Homo sapiens: one gene and its partners. The protein of the gene in region 4 purifies or fractionates together with the protein of the main gene of each other region. This does not show direct contact. Each region holds a gene or a part of one and is shown on either strand. Other genes may lie near its edges. The genes, in order: CRTAP, ZNF280D, ADNP2 and AHDC1.

Evidence for each region.
Region 1: the proteins of AHDC1 (region 4) and CRTAP purify together in Homo sapiens (affinity purification with mass spectrometry; one large-scale study listed by BioGRID and IntAct). This does not show direct contact.
Region 2: the proteins of AHDC1 (region 4) and ZNF280D purify together in Homo sapiens (affinity purification with mass spectrometry, with the first as the bait; one large-scale study listed by BioGRID). This does not show direct contact.
Region 3: the proteins of AHDC1 (region 4) and ADNP2 purify together in Homo sapiens (affinity purification with mass spectrometry, with the first as the bait; one large-scale study listed by BioGRID). This does not show direct contact.

The regions. Positions count from the first base shown.
Region 1 is NC_000003.12:33,123,773-33,128,272, reverse strand, and holds part of CRTAP (cartilage-associated protein isoform 1 precursor), read right to left. Parts: intron 3,866-4,500; coding exon 3,694-3,865; intron 1-3,693. UniProt on the Homo sapiens protein: Necessary for efficient 3-hydroxylation of fibrillar collagen prolyl residues.
Region 2 is NC_000015.10:56,629,449-56,633,282, forward strand, and holds the end of ZNF280D (zinc finger protein 280D), read right to left. Parts: intron 2,675-3,834; coding exon 2,050-2,674; 3' UTR 728-2,049; downstream 1-727. UniProt on the Homo sapiens protein: May function as a transcription factor.
Region 3 is NC_000018.10:80,136,505-80,141,004, forward strand, and holds the end of ADNP2 (activity-dependent neuroprotector homeobox protein 2), read left to right. Parts: coding exon 1-2,305; 3' UTR 2,306-3,842; downstream 3,843-4,500. UniProt on the Homo sapiens protein: May be involved in transcriptional regulation. May play a role in neuronal function; perhaps involved in protection of brain tissues from oxidative stress. May be involved in erythroid differentiation.
Region 4 is NC_000001.11:27,600,941-27,606,064, forward strand, and holds the start of AHDC1 (transcription factor Gibbin), read right to left. Parts: upstream 3,205-5,124; 5' UTR 3,166-3,204; intron 2,924-3,165; 5' UTR 2,788-2,923; intron 2,555-2,787; 5' UTR 2,457-2,554; intron 1-2,456. UniProt on the Homo sapiens protein: Transcription factor required for the proper patterning of the epidermis, which plays a key role in early epithelial morphogenesis. Directly binds promoter and enhancer regions and acts by maintaining local enhancer-promoter chromatin architecture.

The DNA of each region.
Region 1 (4,500 bases), on a different chromosome or scaffold from region 4:
GTGCTAGAAAGAACATTATTGTGACAATTAACAAAAAGAGAATATGAACTACAGATTGAATACAAGCATTGTATCTAGTATATTAAGTTTCCTGAATTTAATTACTATGGATATTTAGATAATATTATTGTTCTTAGGAAATAAACTGAAGTATAATGGGGTAAAGAGTAATAATGCATGTGCAACATACTTCCAAATAGTTCTGAAATAAAAATAATTATACAGAGCTGGGTGCGGTGGCTCAAGCCTATAATCCCAGCACTTTGGGAGGGCAAGGCGGGCGGATCACTTGGGGTCAGGAGTTTGAAACCAGCCTGGCCAACACAGCAAAACGCTGTCTCTACTAAAAATACAAAACATTAGCCAGGTGTGGTGGCGCCTGCCAGTAGTCCCAGCTACTCAGGAGGCTGAGGCAGGAGAATTGCTTCAACCCGGCAGACAGAGGTTGCAGTGAGCCAAGATCGCACCACTGCACTCCAGCCTGGGCGACAGAGTGAGACTCAGTCTCAAAAATAAAATATAATAGGCCGGGTGCGGTGGCTCACGCCTGTACTCCTAGCACTTTGGGAGGCCGAGGTGGGTGGATCACCTGAGGTCAGGAGTTCGAGACCAGCCTGGCCAACGTGGTGAAACCCCGTCTCTACTAAAAATATAAAAATTAGCCAGACGTGTTGGTGCATGCCTGTAATCCCAGCTACTCGGGAGGCTGAGGCAGGAGGATTGCCTGAACCTAAGGGGCAGAGGTTGCAGTGAGCCGAGATCGCGCCGTTGCACTCCAGCCTGGGCAACAAGAGGGAAACTCCATGTCAAAAATAAATAAATAAATAAATAAAATAATAACAATAATAATTATACCCACAGCACATATGGAGAGAGCAATAAAGTAAATGTGGCACAATCAATGTTACAAATTGGTGAATCTAGGTAAGGTGTACATGAGAGTTCTTTGTATGATTCTTCCGACTTCTCTACAAGTTTGAAATTATTTAAAAATAAAAACTAAAGAAACTCTAAATATCTATATATCTATACTGTGAGAGGAAAATAAATCTCAGGACCTCAAAATCACTAAGCCAAAGGGAAAAGTCAAGCTGGGAACCATGTAGGACAAATGTGTTTCCCATCCTATTCCTAAATAAGATAGCTACAAAAATTTAAAAAAAAAAAAAAAAAGCCACAAATCTCTCTCATAATTTGCCCACAAGGAAGTTTTTGTGGACAAAGGACAGGCAGAACTCAGTCATCCCTCTGCTCACATGGAACAAATGTATATATGGTTGTTTCCTTTGCTCTGTTGTTTCACTAAGCCAGACTAAAGCATAAGTGACTATTCCTGCAAATTGCATATTCAGTGAAAGGCTAATCAGAAACTCAAAAGAATGCAACCATTTGTCTCTCACCTACCTATGACCTGGAAACCCCCTCCCACTTTGGGTTGTCCTGCCTTTCTGGACTGAAGCAATGTACATCTTACATATATTGATTGATGTCTCATGTCTCCCTAAAATGTATAAAACCAAACTGTGCCCTGAGTACCTTGGGCATATGTTGTTAGGACCTCCTGAGTCTGTGTCACAAGTACATCCTTAACTTGGCAAAATAAACTGTCTAAATTGATTGAGACTTGTCTCAGATACTCTTTGATTTACAATACATATATATCTTAGCTGTATCAAAGATAGATGGAGAGAAACCACAGACATTATGTGCCTCCTGATGAAAGAACTCAGCATCAACTATGAAGCAGTTGACTCCCACCAAAATTTAAAACCCTAAAACAAAATCAAACCGAGCCTGTTCAAGCCTCTACATCCAATTACCGATTTACAAGAAATACAGAAGACAGAGGAACATGGGGATACAGTCAGCAAAACCCAGACCATGGGAATCTCTACGGGACAAAAAATGCAGATTCTTCAATAGCAAAGGGGAAAAGATATGGCGGAAGAACCTATGGATTAAACGAGCCATAAAAGATAACCAACTTGCCACAATATGGATGAAACGAGGACATTATGCCAAGTGAAATGAGTCAGTCACAAAAAGGCAAATACTGTATGACTCCACTTACGTGATGTATCTAGAGTAGTCAAATTCACAAAGACAGAAAGTAGAAAGGTTGTTGCCAGTGGCTGGGGGGAAGGGGATATGGGGAGTTATCGCATACAGAGTTTCAATTTGGGGAAACATAAAAAGTTCTAGAGATGGATGGTGCTGATGGTTGCACAATCATGTGAATGTAGTCAATGCCACTGGAGTGTACATTGAACAATGGCTAAAATAATAAAGTTCATATTAACGTATATTTTACCACAATAAAAATTTTCAAGAGATAACCCATTGCAATGGATGGACCTTATTTGGATCCTGATTCAAACAAATGGTAAATTAAAGGCACACACATGTATTTATGACATTTCTGAAATGATTGGGACACTGTTTAGGTATTTAATGATGAGATCAAAGAATGATTGTTAAAATTCTTACAGGGGTAATAGTTTGGTGTTATGTTTAAAAAACAAAGAGTCCTTACCTTCTAAAGGTATATACTGAAATATTACAAATGAAATAATATGGCATTTGGAATCCGCTTCAAAATAACATGAGAGGAAAAGTAGGTGGGAATTAGAGGAAGCTCAAGTAGCCATGAGTTGACAATTGTGAAGTTGGGTCATGGGTACATGGTGGTTTATCTACTCTTCTCTCTGTTTTTTGTGTATGTTTGAAATTTTCCATAACAAGAAGTTTTCTTAAGGCAAAAAAAAAAAAAAAAAAAAAAAACCTACTTTGTAGAAAGAGATTAATGAATAAAAAGTGACTGAAAAAAAAAAACAAAACCGAAAACGCTGGATTCAATAACTTTAAAAGAGCTTCTCTACTGCAGGATTTCTAAGGGCCTTTAACCATTAAAGTGCACAATGATTCTTCAAGTGGGAGATGCAGTCAGTGCTCAGCCCATTCCCAGACTTATTTACAAGTACATAGACATGATACCTTTATCCAAGGTACAGTCCAGATTTTACTTATCTAGTGCTTTCAGGAAGGCACAGTTCTAGGATCAGTGTTCTCAAACCACTTTGGGAAAGAGCTTCCCTTAGCCATTTCCCAGTTTCTGGAGTGATGCTGCCCAGTAAAGCACTTGGGAAATGTCTAGGCACTATAGAGAAATCTGGGCTACCTATGTGTAGAGTTTTACATTTTCTTCCTTTCTTCATTTTTCCTTTCTGTGTTTTCCAAACTTCCTATAATGAGCACACATTGTTTTATAATCAGAAAAGAAAATTTCAAAAAGCTACCTTAGTGATGGCCACTTAAAGGTTCATTCTACCTTTATATGTGTTGGAAAATTGCCATCATCAAAGTTATCTCAGTAATGTGAGTCACTGAGGTGCTCCTGGGCCCATTTTTATTTTTCAAAATGACTGTAGGAAATCTGTAAGCAAGTAGGGCAGACACAGAATTCTACCTTGGCAGGCCTGTGCTTGAACCTTCTCTCAGTGATTTCACTAGAAGCCCCTGCCAAGTCAAAGGTTTATCTATGCAGGTGGTGACTACCCTCAGTTACCCGTTAATAAGTATGCTCAAAAATTCCTCAGAGGCTGCTCCAGGCATCTAGCAGGCATGCAGGCAGAAACCAGACATCTAAGGAAGACTATTCCATGGGAGTAGTGAGCCTATTGACCTACCACCAACCTGCTATGGAAAGGTAGAAATCCTTGAAGTCCTTGATCTCCCTGGAACCCTCGCAGGCTGCGAGACACTCGTAAAAGGCTTTGAAGAAGTCGGGAAGGGCCAGCTCCATGTCTGTGATGGATGTTCTCCAGTTCTCACCGTTGTATGCCCGCACTGCTCGGATGAACAGGCTCTGAAAGGCATGGAGAAGCCAGTGAAGCTCGCTCTTGGGCGTGAAGGGAGACAGTCATGAAATCTCAAAGGGAACCAAGACCACCACCAAGCTAGCTCTCATTAGCTCTGAAGAAGCCACACTGGCCCTTGAAGAAGTCAATCAGTGAGTTACTTTATATCTAGATTTTTCTACTTTGCTTATGATGGGTACATTTCTTATTTAGTTCAATTCAAAAAGTAGCAGGCCCTTGATAATAATCTGAATTAAGGAAAATGGGAAAACTATGACAGAGATCAGATCAGTGGCTGCCAGAAGTCAGGGGTTACAGCAAAAACTTGACTACAAAAGGACAAGAGGAAATTGTTCAGGGGTGATGAAAATATTCTATGTCGTAACTATGATGGCAGTTACAGGACTGGATGTATTTGTCAAAACTTACTGCATTATACACTTAAAATTGATAAATATATTGTATATAAATAGTACCTCAATAAAACTGGTTTTTAAAATGGAACGAAAAGAAAAATGTAAGTTTGAGAGCAGGTATATTAGTCTGTTCTCACATTGCTATAAAGAAATACCTCTAGCATGGCCAATATAGGGAAACCCCATCTGTACTAAAAATATAGAAATTACCAGGTGTAGTCACATGC
Region 2 (3,834 bases), on a different chromosome or scaffold from region 4:
CCAAATACAATTCTTAATTCAGCTATTTTTTTTTTCATTGCCAGACTTTCTCAATGAAGCACTTACAGTCCAGTATAGGTTCCTTTTCTCATAGTATATAGGTACAAACAGTTCATTGACCTGCTACTTTGAATACCACTACTCAAAAGGTATATGGGGGCTGATGTAGCAAAGCTCCAAAGGGATTATGGTGTCATAATGTGATAATGTGGCAACAGACTGAATGAGACTCACAAGTGGTCCTTATAGAGACAGGCGTTTTTCCTAACCCTGCTCTTCTAAGGTTTATATTATTCCAAAAATCTTCCATGATACAGAATTACATTTTAACAAGGTGAAGGATGAGAGCTAATGGCTCCCTCTCTCCCTATCTTTTCTTGGGAGCAGGAAAGATAAAAATATTAGCTCTCCTCCCCAAAATACTCCAAATAATTCATAATATATTTTGCCTATTTAGCCTCTTTAAATTGTTGGGCAGATAGAAAAGTATAATATTAAATTCTATTTCTCTTGAAGTAAAAGAATTTATAAAGCAAATCTATTCTCATAAATATTAGCAATATTGTCCCCTGTACTTTAAGTCCTAATTTAAAATAATGTATCAGCAGTTAAAGAATGTAGAATGGAATCCTCACCACTAACACTGATATTAAATTTCTTGAACAAGTATATAATTTCTAAAGGCACCAAAGGTAATCTGAATCAAGCAGTGATTGGAAAAATAGAATTATTCGGGGGCAGATTTTTATTGCAAATATTTACTCAAAAACTACTATATACAGCAGAGTATTTTAATCGCCATTTAAAACATTGAACATTCAGTGAAACAAAATTTAAGAATCCAAAGCACATTTTAAGAAGTAAAAATGAAGCATTTTAAATAAAAGTTTATTAGTATTTCAAAGCAAACTACTGTTCTTCATATTATTCATTTCTATATCTATTATATTCTAGATGATAAAAAGAACTGAAAAATCAATTTAGCAGCCATCTTATAGATAAATTAGGCTAAATTTCCAAAACCAGTTCTTTTACATCACTGTTTTAGGTCCCATTTGAAGTTTTTATTTTACAATTACAGAAAAGTCACTTAAACATGGCTGAATACATGCCAGGACATGTTTTCAGTTTACTGCTTTACAATATCTACATTATACCATACTTTGGTTTGGCTTCCAGACCATTTTTATGGGCCTATTTCTAAGGAAGATCATTAAAACAATATTAAAAGCATAATAGCTACAGGAGTTTCAACAATGGGTTTCTACTTTACATTAATACAACTAATACATCAAAGAATTTCTACACAGCTTACACACTGACAAAAAGCACAAATATAAATTTATATCTTAATAATTCCACTTTCACTGAAAGTTTAATTAAGGTAAGCTTACAGCCTGGCAGGCTAACACTTGTATGGAGGTACAAAGATTCAAATATTCTGTTTACATGCGTCTGACTGGAATGTTATATTAAATCCAAAATTAAGTTTATGTTCATCCAAATTCTCATTAGATCAATTTAGTACTCTAAGCATGCTCCATTTACCAGCATCATCCTCACAAATAAAGCCTTCATTAACAATGCCAATCAGCCATTGTTTTTAATCAATTACTCCCCAAAAGTACATGGTTTCCAAATCCCTTCCTCTCAGTTAACTGAAAAGGATATACAGGTAATAAAGATTTTTAGCTTAGGATTGATGGAAGTTTGAAAGGCTTTATAAATATTACTAATATCATCAATTCATGTCAGCAACCAAATCCCATTTCCTTGAAAACCATTAAATGAGACCTTTCCACTGCAAATTTAATTATCATTAAAATCCTGTTCGTGTTTTTAAAAACTTTTTGGGAATCCCTACTAATCATGCTATTATTGGTGAATTGATTTGTTTGATAACATAGGTTGAACATACAGGTAAAGTGTATGTGTGACCTCCCTTACATATTTCCATTTCTGAACCTACAACAGCACCACTGAGCTCACCTGATAGCACTGTTCCAAATGCCCTTATCGTTGGTACACTGAAACTTAAAATGACTAATTTCAACTTCTTTCTTTTTCGTCTTCCAGGTCTACTGTTGCCTCTGTTGTGCTAGGGTTATTTCCTCCAGGAATGTCATCTGTTTGATCAGACACTACTTCATCAGTCTTGGCTGAAGGATCACCACTACCTTTCTGAAGAATCTCTGTGGCTTCATACTCAAGTACCTCGGATGGAGTCAGAGGTTCCAAATGAATACTGCCTTGCTCGCTAACATCAGAACTAACAGATTCAGGTTCATGTCTTTTTCTCAAAAACTGATCAATGCTTACATTATCTGATGCTAATCGCAAATCCTTAATATTCTTTGAAGAAAATCTGGCTTCACTGGAGTTGTGATCTTTAATCTGATCAGATAAGATTATGTTTTCTGAACTTTGGCACATCTTCAACTCCATTTCCTGACAAACGTGTTGTATTTGTTTTTTCTTTTCCACTTTATCTGCACCAATATTTGAATCACAACTGACGATGTTTTTTGAGCCAGTTTCCTGGTCTGCAAGACAGGTTTCATTTTCCTTATCTGAAACTGTTATGCTTTCTTCACTTTTTGTTGTTGATGAGCCTTCAAATGAATTTGCATTACATCCATTTTTTTCTTTTGAAGAAGCAGCTTTATCTTGTTTACTGAAAAATAAAGTCATTTATTATGTATTTCTTCATAAAGCAATGTTTTTGAACACTGTCAAAATAAAGACGTGTTCTAAAAAATAAAAAGTCAAGGTACATTTGCCCACCAAAAAGGAAAACAGTCCAAGTTCCCAATCCTCGCTATGGCAGTAAAATTTAGGAGGAGGCCATTTTCTTAGGCAAGATTCTGAGAAACTCTGGAATCACATACTAAAAGATATCTATCAACTAGTTTTAGTCCTGGCTGTCATTATTTTCATCTGTTCATATCTCTTGCCTGTTTCTAGTTTAAATTTAAGTATTTTTATTAACTTGTAAAAGTACCTAAAATAAAAAAATATATTTGGAAAAAAATCTATATTTTTTTATGATTTTTTTTTTTTTTTTTTTGAGACAGGGTCTTGCTCTGTCACCCAGACAGGAACACAGTGGTGCAAATATCTCACTGCAGCTTTGACCTCCTGGGCTCAAGTGATCCTCCCACCTCAGCCTCCCAAGTAGCTAGGAATATAGGTGCACACCACCAAGCCCAGCTATTTTTTTTATATTTCATAGAGACAAGGTTTTGCCATGTTGCCCAGGCTGGTCTCCTGGGCTCAAGCAATCCTCTTGCCTTGGCTCCCAAAGGGCTGGGATTACAGGTATGAGCCACCATGCCCAGTCTCCTTTATGATTTAAATAGCTTCTTATGTTTAGAATGTCTTTCCATACATAAAATCAGATAAGCATTCAAACATATTTTTCTAATTTTTAATAGCCCAATTTAAAAAAAAAACACATGCCTGAAAAAGTATATGTAAATATATAACATACATACACATCTAAGTGTGTGTGCATGTTTGTACACATATATATATGTGTGCTTCTGTGTGTTTCTTCTGGCCCTGAAGTGTTAACAGAAACTATCTAGTGAATCACAAAATATGAGAAACAAGATTTCTAAGAAGATCATCAGTCCATTATCTAGATCTAAGGATGCTTATTTTATGAAAATAAATTTAATGATTACATATACCTTATTTCTTACATTTAATCTGACATTTAGACGTATTCCCAATGAATTGCACAAATATCCTAGCAACATTTCCAAAAGGTAATTTATTATTTACTAAATTACTATTTATATAAGGCTATTTCTCTGCTATTTGTTTTGTTCT
Region 3 (4,500 bases), on a different chromosome or scaffold from region 4:
TCAGTCTGTGAATCCTCCTGTGTTGCCCTTGAGTCAGCCAGTCGGACCTGTCAATAAGTCTGTTGGAACTAGTGTCCTCCCCATAAATCAGACTGTTCGCCCTGGGGTTTTACCCCTCACCCAGCCTGTGGGACCCATAAACAGACCTGTTGGGCCTGGTGTTCTTCCTGTGAGCCCCTCTGTCACCCCTGGGGTCCTGCAGGCTGTCTCGCCAGGGGTGCTTTCTGTGAGTCGGGCGGTCCCGTCTGGAGTCCTTCCTGCAGGCCAGATGACTCCTGCAGGCCAGATGACTCCTGCAGGGGTTATCCCTGGGCAAACAGCAACTTCTGGGGTTCTTCCTACTGGCCAGATGGTCCAGTCAGGAGTTCTCCCTGTGGGCCAGACAGCTCCGTCACGGGTTCTTCCCCCAGGCCAGACAGCCCCATTGAGGGTTATCTCTGCAGGCCAGGTGGTCCCGTCTGGGCTTCTTTCTCCCAACCAGACAGTCTCCTCCTCAGCTGTTGTGCCTGTAAACCAGGGTGTGAATTCTGGTGTTCTGCAGCTTAGTCAGCCTGTTGTGTCGGGAGTTCTTCCTGTGGGCCAGCCAGTGAGGCCTGGGGTCTTGCAACTCAACCAGACTGTGGGCACCAACATTCTGCCTGTGAATCAGCCAGTGAGACCTGGTGCTTCGCAGAACACCACCTTCCTGACATCAGGCTCTATTCTCAGACAGCTCATCCCTACAGGGAAACAAGTGAATGGGATTCCAACCTACACGCTGGCCCCCGTGTCTGTCACTCTGCCGGTTCCCCCTGGAGGCCTTGCGACTGTCGCTCCGCCCCAGATGCCCATCCAGCTCCTGCCGTCAGGTGCAGCTGCACCAATGGCCGGTTCCATGCCCGGCATGCCCTCTCCTCCAGTGCTGGTGAATGCTGCTCAGAGCGTGTTTGTTCAGGCCTCCTCCTCTGCAGCAGACACAAACCAGGTGCTCAAACAGGCCAAGCAGTGGAAGACCTGCCCTGTCTGCAACGAGCTCTTTCCGTCCAACGTCTACCAGGTCCACATGGAGGTAGCGCATAAGCACAGCGAGTCCAAGTCTGGTGAGAAACTTGAGCCTGAAAAACTGGCAGCGTGTGCACCATTTCTAAAGTGGATGAGAGAGAAAACGGTGCGATGTCTGTCTTGTAAGTGCTTGGTCTCTGAGGAAGAGCTTATACACCACTTGCTGATGCATGGCTTGGGGTGCTTGTTCTGTCCATGCACCTTCCATGATATCAAAGGTCTTTCAGAGCACAGCAGGAATAGGCACCTGGGGAAGAAGAAGTTGCCTATGGATTATAGCAACAGAGGTTTTCAATTAGATGTCGATGCCAATGGCAACCTGCTCTTTCCCCACCTTGATTTCATCACCATATTGCCAAAGGAGAAGCTTGGGGAGCGGGAAGTCTACTTGGCAATCCTGGCTGGGATACACTCCAAGTCACTGGTGCCTGTGTATGTGAAGGTGAGGCCTCAGGCTGAGGGCACCCCCGGGAGCACCGGCAAGCGAGTGTCCACCTGCCCCTTTTGCTTTGGCCCCTTTGTGACAACTGAGGCCTATGAGCTGCATTTGAAGGAGAGGCACCACATCATGCCCACAGTCCACACGGTCCTGAAGTCTCCCGCCTTCAAGTGCATCCACTGCTGTGGGGTCTACACGGGAAATATGACCCTGGCTGCCATCGCCGTCCATTTGGTGCGCTGCAGAAGTGCTCCCAAGGACAGCAGCTCAGACCTGCAGGCCCAGCCGGGTTTTATTCACAACAGTGAACTGCTTTTAGTCAGTGGTGAAGTGATGCATGATTCCAGTTTTTCTGTTAAGAGAAAGCTGCCTGACGGCCACTTAGGGGCCGAAGACCAGCGGCATGGGGAGGAGCAGCCTCCCATCCTAAATGCCGATGCAGCCCCGGGTCCAGAAAAGGTGACGAGTGTTGTGCCTTTTAAAAGACAAAGGAATGAAAGCAGAACAGAGGGACCTATTGTCAAGGACGAGGCTCTTCAGATTTTAGCATTAGATCCTAAAAAATATGAAGGCCGTTCTTATGAAGAAAAGAAGCAATTTCTTAAAGATTATTTCCATAAGAAACCATATCCTAGTAAAAAGGAAATAGAACTGTTGTCCTCACTCTTTTGGGTGTGGAAAATTGATGTGGCTTCATTTTTTGGAAAAAGAAGGTATATTTGCATGAAAGCAATAAAAAATCACAAGCCTTCTGTACTTTTAGGCTTTGATATGTCTGAACTTAAAAATGTGAAACATAGATTGAACTTTGAATATGAACCATAAAACTTGCAAAAAAAAAAAAAAGTAACTCTAAAGTAGTAGGTAGATTTTTTTCAGTTGAAATTTCACAGTGTTGTCCTCACTGTGTTGGTGAATCAACCTCAGTGGTCACTGTGCTGCTCTGCAGAGTTACTTCAGGTGCTGGAGAGACCCCTGTTACCAGGAAGCCAGTAGTTATTTCACATCTATTGTTTCCTGCAGTTTGATTTGTAACAGAACAGTTGTTTTCAGGTTTTTTTCTCTGTCATGTAAATGAAATCTTTTGATATTTCATGCACGCCTTGTTTTCCCACTAGTGTCAGTATCGTATGATAAGAAACTGAAATCTATAAATAATTTGCTTTTTCATTAAGGACATTTCAGCCTTTTTCAGAATACTTGATTTAACTGCGAGTGGAAGCATCGATCTCCTTCAGCTTTCCCTGTAGCAGCAGATGGTACAGTGAGTGTTCAGAGACGTGGGTACAAACCCTGTGATGTATGTATAAGGCTCCCTGAGGATGCACTGCATTAACTTACGCTGACTTCTTTGTAAGATCTTTGCTTATAGATTATAATTTAGATCTGTATTTTTTTAGGTTTATCCTAATAGCTGTTTTTTTTTTTAACCATAACTCATAGAAAATCAAATGTTTTTATTTGTTAAAAGTAGACTGAATTTGACATCTGGTATGCTGGTATGTAGCTCATACATCAAGAGTTATTTTACAAATAAATTTATTCTGTAGATGCAGAAATATTTTTCAGTGTAGATTTTCCCTTTTGATATGCTAAGTCATTTCTCCGTTCAGAGGTAAAACAATAAATTTTTAGTGCCTTTAGAATAAACATTGAAAGAATACACCCCAAAACTCTTCTCCTAACTTAACTACTCATAAACTAGTGAAAGGGAAGGTCTATGATACTCAGGAATAAGATTATTGCCCCTGAGTGTGAAAACTAACTTAAATTTCAGCATAGGGTTTCAGGGGACATGGCGAAGTTTACAGACTGAGATCTCAGTCTCCATGGTTGGTACAGTAAGTCTTTGACCACATTTTCTGAAGGTCATGTTTAGTGGAGAAACGGGCTTTTCTCTAGCTGGTTTAGGCTGGAAGCTGTGTCCGGGTCGATGGGATGGCATATTGTTAAAGAATCTCCATTGTCGTCACTGTCCTGTGGATGTTAAACCTCGTTTTTTTCCCCACACGATATTAAAACTTAAAGCACCAGAACCAGTCATGGAGACCAGCCAGTTTAGATGGTAAGTCATATTTCTGGTGGTACACAGCAGAGGAACCCCTTCACTCTATCTTTAGGTAGAAATATTTGGAGGATGTGACAGCCTCTGAGAAACATAATGTTACTATGTGGATTTTAAAAAATATAATACTTGCATGTAATTGCTATAATGTTCATATTTGAGGCAGTTGTGAAACTGGTTTATGATTGTTGGTGTACTCTGTTGTAAATTCAAAGAGAGCTTGTTGAACATTTTTTTTTTTTACCTATTGTTTTCAGAGTGTCTATTTTGAATTAAAATTTGTTACACCGCTGCAAATAGAACTGTTTAATTCTTTTAAAAGTTAAAACATTATTGTGAATCATAGGGATAACCTCTATATGGGAATAGATACCACATTTATTTTCTAAAAAAACCTTACCTGTCATTTGTGTGAAAATAAGAACATAACCCAAAAGGTCTAATTACTGGGGTCACAAAATAGGTGTAACTACAGATTCCTGATGATTCTATACTGGTAGCCCCCAAAGTGCCAAAGAAGGTATGTAACTGGGGTGTCAGTGCTGTGAAGTTTCCTTCACTGTGGCTGTGTTCAGGGTGAGTGTGGAGGAGGTGCTGATGAGGAGGCAGCTGCCGTCTGGCGTGGTTGAATCCTCACCTTCCTTTTGTTGTGTACGTTAGGGTTTCCCAGCCTCAGCACTGCTGACATTTTGGGTCAGGTAATTCTCTGTGGTGGGTGGCTATTCTGTCACTGTAGGATGTTGAGCAGTGTCGTTAGACACTAGTAGCACGCATGTCCCTACTCTCTCCCCATTGTGGCCACCAAAAATGTCATTACCAGGTGGTCCCTGAGGGGCAGAATCTTGTCAGAACCCTGGTAAAAGAGCTGATTTCTTGGTGCAGTTTAGCTGTGGTAGAACTGTTCATGCTGTCTTTAATGTTATGCTAGTTGCTGGTTACTAGTTTTTTAGGATTA
Region 4 (5,124 bases):
ACCCTCACGCATTGAAACTGAGAAGCTATGCTGTCCCACAGCGCCTGAGGGTGGTAGGGGCTCCCTGCCCCCACGACCCTGTTCCAGACCCCCCAGCCCAGCAACAATAATAAACAGCAAGCTCTTTTTCTTTATGACACCAAATTTCTCCAAGCCCAACAGCTCCTTCCATCACTACCTCAGCCATAGATCACATTAAAAACTCACAGAGGGCAACTTAAACACATCACATTTGTTTCTCTCTATATTATTTCAAAAGTAACGGCATTAAAAATGGATTTTACTACAGAAAATAAATATCGGCACGTGGGCTGGGAGCCCAGGCGGAGGAGAGCGCCCACCAGGGGAACGTTCCTGAGGGCTTGGGCACAGTTAGGCACTGACCAGACTAGAAAGGCCAGACTACACCTTGGGCTTGTGGGTGATTCCTGGGGAGGGGGCAATGCCTGCCCACCTGGGCATCTGCCCCAAAGCCAGATGAAGAAGGACAACTCACTGGTTTGGGCTGGTAGCCACTGGTCCCCCAAAGCTTATGCCCTTACTGGTCTTTGCAACCCCTGAAGAGTGGGAGCTCTGGGGCCAGAAGTTCACCAGTCTCTGGGGATTACTCCAACTATTGACACAGCAGGAGAAAAAAATGAATTCAACTTACTATCCAGTTTGATTTTCCATTACTATAAAAATAAATATACATCTGCTCAAAGGAGGGAGATGGCAAGCAGCATGCACATGCCACCTGGGGGGTCCCCCCACAACCCAGCCTTCCTACCCCCCCACCCCAGGTTGGGGGACAGACTGGTAATCTTTCACTTACAGCCCCAGCTCACACAGCCACACAGAACAGGAACAAGCCAACAATAGAAACACCCCAAATGCCCCTGGCAGGACTCTGCCCAGGCCCGGGCACATGCCCCCGCCCAGCCGGCGGCGACAGCAGCAGCGGACAAAATGTGGCCACCCTGACCCGGAGGCAAAGCTTGTCCTCACACCCTGAGCTCTGCCCAGGGAGCTGGGGCCAAGTCCCGCCTGACACCAACTGGTCCGGCGGGAAACGCCTGCCCAGCCAGACAGGCACAGGCCCCCCAAGGGTCCCTCCTTGTGCTCAGGGACCAGGCTGGTACAGTCCGGCCCTGCCTCCCAGGGTGACGCCTGGGCCCAAATTCAGCTGGCCCTGCCAGTCAGGCACTGGTGCAGAACCGAGGGCACCAGGCTCAGCCCCTCCCAGCCCAGCCCCAGGGCCCCCAAGCTGGGAGGGAGGGGAGACTCCCCACCCCTCCACATCTGGCCCTGGCCCCCAGGGTCTGCGGTAGAGAATTCCCGCCCCCGCTTCTCTCCCTCCTCCCGCTCTGTGCCCGCTGCCCGCCTCAGGGACAGCCCCAGCTCCCGCCTCCGGCCAGCAAGGCCCACATCCTTCCTCCCTCAGCTGGCCCCTTCGCCTGGCAGGAGGCTGGGGGGTCAGGCTGCTGGGGAACCCCCCCAAGCTCCCATCAGTCCTCATCCCCAGCCCCCAAACTCTGGGTTGCTGTCCCTTTTCCTGTAGAACAGGAAACAAGGTTATTTCCTAGACTCAGAGCCAGCCCCCTGCCCCTCTGGCTCTGCCCGGGGACCCAGACCCAGCAGGGGAAGGCGCCCTCAAGCAGCGAGCAGAGATTCAGCAATTCACCCCAGCTCCCTGCCTAGGGGGCTGACAGCTGTCACTCAGCACCCCACCCCCTGGGGAAGAGGGGGCCGATTCAATCAGAGCCCCAGAGGAAACGCATTGATAGGCGATTATTTATTTATTTATGCAAAAGTGAGCCGACTTTGTTCGCCAGGTAACCGGGCACGCGGCCCAACCCCTCCAGCCCTAGCCGCCCCCAAATCCCTCCTCCGCCCCACACCCCCTCCGGGTCATTAGGTCCCCGCCCCTCAACTCCCCGAGAGCCAGTGGATCCTAGGGATTTGGGGGTTGGAGGGGAGGGGCTCCTCCCTCCGCAGTCTCCCCTTTTCCCAGCGCCGATCCTAAAATCCAGCCTTGTTCTCCGCTCCCACGGTCCCCCCTTCATTCCCCCCCCCCCCACATTCTCAGCAAGCTGGAGAGCAAATTGCAGTTTTAAATCCAAAGGCGGAGGGAGGGGGAAGGAGGAGGGGGCGCGCGGCAGCGCTGGGCGCGCACCTCGCCCCCGAGCCGGGGGAGCCGCGGGGCGGCCAGGAAACCCGAGAACCCCCCCTCCCCGCCCCCCCTCCCCGTCCACCTCCCCCTCCCCCTTCCCGGCGCTGCCTGCCAGGCTTCGAGCCGAGCCCAGCCGAGCCGCGGGCCCCGGTGGAAACAAAGACCGATCGCACCGCGGGCACCGCAGCCACCGGGTCCAGCGGACCGGACCGGGGGACGCAGGCCCCCCCCGTGCGCTGCACAAAAGAGCCTGGCCGGCCGGTCCCCAGCGGGGGTCTGGGGCTGGGGAGGAGGCGCCACTCACCGGAGTGCTGGGCTGCCGGCTCCGTGGGTCCGAGCCAGGCGAGGGGTTTTGGGGGACGTCTGTCTTCCGGCGGTGGCAGCGACGCGGGCGCCCGGCTGCTGAGGAGAGGAGTCGTGGAGGAGCCCTGAGCCGCCCGCCGTCGCTGACAGCATGGCTCGCGCCTCGGCTCACATTCTCCGCCGCTAACTCCGCTGGACACGGCCCCCCGCTCCCGCGGCGCCCCCCCACCTCGATCACTCCTTCGCTCTCTCTGCGCCCCCCTCGCCCTCCCGCCGCGCACACACTCTCCCAGCCCTGGACACCCCCGCCCCCACCCCCCCCAATAGCAAACCTGGGAGGGAACGCGCCCCGCGTAGTCCTCCTGCTCCTCCTCCTCCGCCCTCCTCCCTCCCGCTCTCTCTGGCTGTCTGTCTGTCTCTCAGACTGTCTCTATTTCTCGCTCTCTCTGCCTTTCTCTGCTCTCCAAGCTGGGTGGGAAAAGGAAATGAGGACAGAAAGCAGACGCTGGCTTTGGGTGGTGGTAGCTGGATTCCCTCTCTCCCTCCCTCCCCCTCCTCCCCTCCCTCCTCCTGCCTTCTGCTCTCTCCGCTGCGAGCGGGGCTGAGCGCAGCCTGGCGGGTGGCTCGCTCTGCCCGCCCGCCCGCCTGTCTGTCTGTCTGGTCCGCCTCGCTCGCTCCCTCCCTCCGTCTCTCGCCCTCGCCCTGCCTGCCTGCCTCTCTCCGTCTCCGCCGCCGCCGCCGCTGCCTCTGCGAGCTCGCCTTACCTTCGCCGCTCACCATCCGGAACCCCAGGGGGGAGCGCGCGCGCGGCACGCCGGGACTTGTAGTCCCCGCCCCGGCCGCTCCGCGCGCGGGGAGGGCGGGGCCGCGCCGGCTGCTCCGACGGCGCGGCCAGGAGCCCCGGGGACCCCGCGCCTGGGGCTCGTCTGGCTGGAGCGCGTCCTCGTTTACCAACGGGCGAAGATCCTCCCCAAGGGTTAAGAATGGTCCCTGTGTTCCTTGTCTCCACCGGGGGGCTCTGGATCGAGCGGAGGTTGCGGGTGGGAGTGAAGGGGCGGGGTCTGAGAGTGGAATGGGAGTGGAATAGGGAACCAGGGGATTAGCCAAAGGGGCTGCGACTTTCTGGGGCGTCCCAATTAAATGGGAGGGGGAGAGGGCAGAGGAGAGGACCGGCTCTCTCAATCTGGGGACGTTATCCTTTTCTGAAAAGGTTTCTTATTGAGTAAAGCTCAAGTATATATGGCGGGAGGGCTGCTGGGGCGGGGGAGCGGGGGAGACCCAGCCAGCGCTGCTTCCTCACTCAGTGACCCCTCCTCTCAAACTCCGACCTCGGTTTCGCCCTTGCAACTCCCAGCTTTCCTATATGTCCAAGGGCGGCGAGGGCTCAAAAGTCCTGGATAATCCGCAGATAGAACACACACACCCTTTTCCGAATTCTGCTGAGCATTTGCGTTGTGTCAGGAAGCAGGATTCAGATTGAACGGTGCTGACCTCCTGCCGCGGCCGGGGGCTGGGCTCAGCACTTTCACCTACCTCCTCTTCAGGTCACATGTGTTCTCCAGCCCCTGCCTAGCCTATCCCACAGATGGGAATGTGCGCTGCTTGGGGGCCTTGTTACCGCCCCCGGAGATGGCTGAACTGCTGCGGTAAAATAGTGCTGTTATTTCCATTTTAGAGATGGGGGCACTGAGGTCCAGGTTCTCCAGTTAGCAAGTGGCTGAACCCAGCTGGATTTGAACCAGGGTCTGACTAACTCCAAACCCCACAAGCTTAACCCCTGGGCTATGACAAGGAGTTGTGACTCCCTCCATTTCTGTAACTGACCTTCTCTCCCTGTGTCTGTGTGTCCTTTCTTGGCACTTCAACAAATGTTAACTGAGGTATGCAGGGCTTGCAAGGGACACGGAGATGAATAATGCATAGTGGCTGTCGTGTCCTGTGTCCTAGGTGTCTACCAACGCCGGCCCTGACTGGCCCTGCGGCGGTCCCACCTCACTGGACCACCTCATCTGTGTGTCTGATGTTCCACACCCTGTGTCTGCTGGCCTTGTCTATCTTGCTCCAGGTCTGAAGTTCCTAGAGCAGTGCCTTTGTCTCTGGCCTACCTGTTTCTGACTCTTCCTTTGGCCTTGCAGGGTGTTGGCCAGTGTGTGACAAAGGCAGCTGGTGACATTTTGCCAACCGCAACTCCCTGGTCACTATCTTCCCCACACCTTCACTCCTTCCAAGCTCCTTCTCTATGGCAGTCCAGTACCCCCAGAGGACAAGAGAGGGGATCTGGGGAACACTCTCTATTGGCCCTTGGCAGAGGGTGTGTGCAGCAGTAATAGGAGAGGTCTAGGGCTCTAAACGGGACACTATTGATTTGGCATCATGGGGCTGCCATGACCGACTGGAGAGGCCCTCATCTTGGAGCAGCTTCTCCTTGCAGACAAGTTAGGACTTGGGTTCAAAGATTTATTCATTGAATGGGAAATATAAGGTCAGATGCTCATAAAAGTAGTGGCTAAAGTCATTAGAGATTCTGCAGCTCCAAAGCCTGGGCCTGAAGTGATCCCAAATAGATGAGGCTTTGGCACCTTGCCCTAGCTGGCCCCCTATAGGACAGACAGACTTCGGCGTTGGGGAGGGTGAAAGAGACCCAGGTTCCTCCTCCTTTCTCTCCCTTC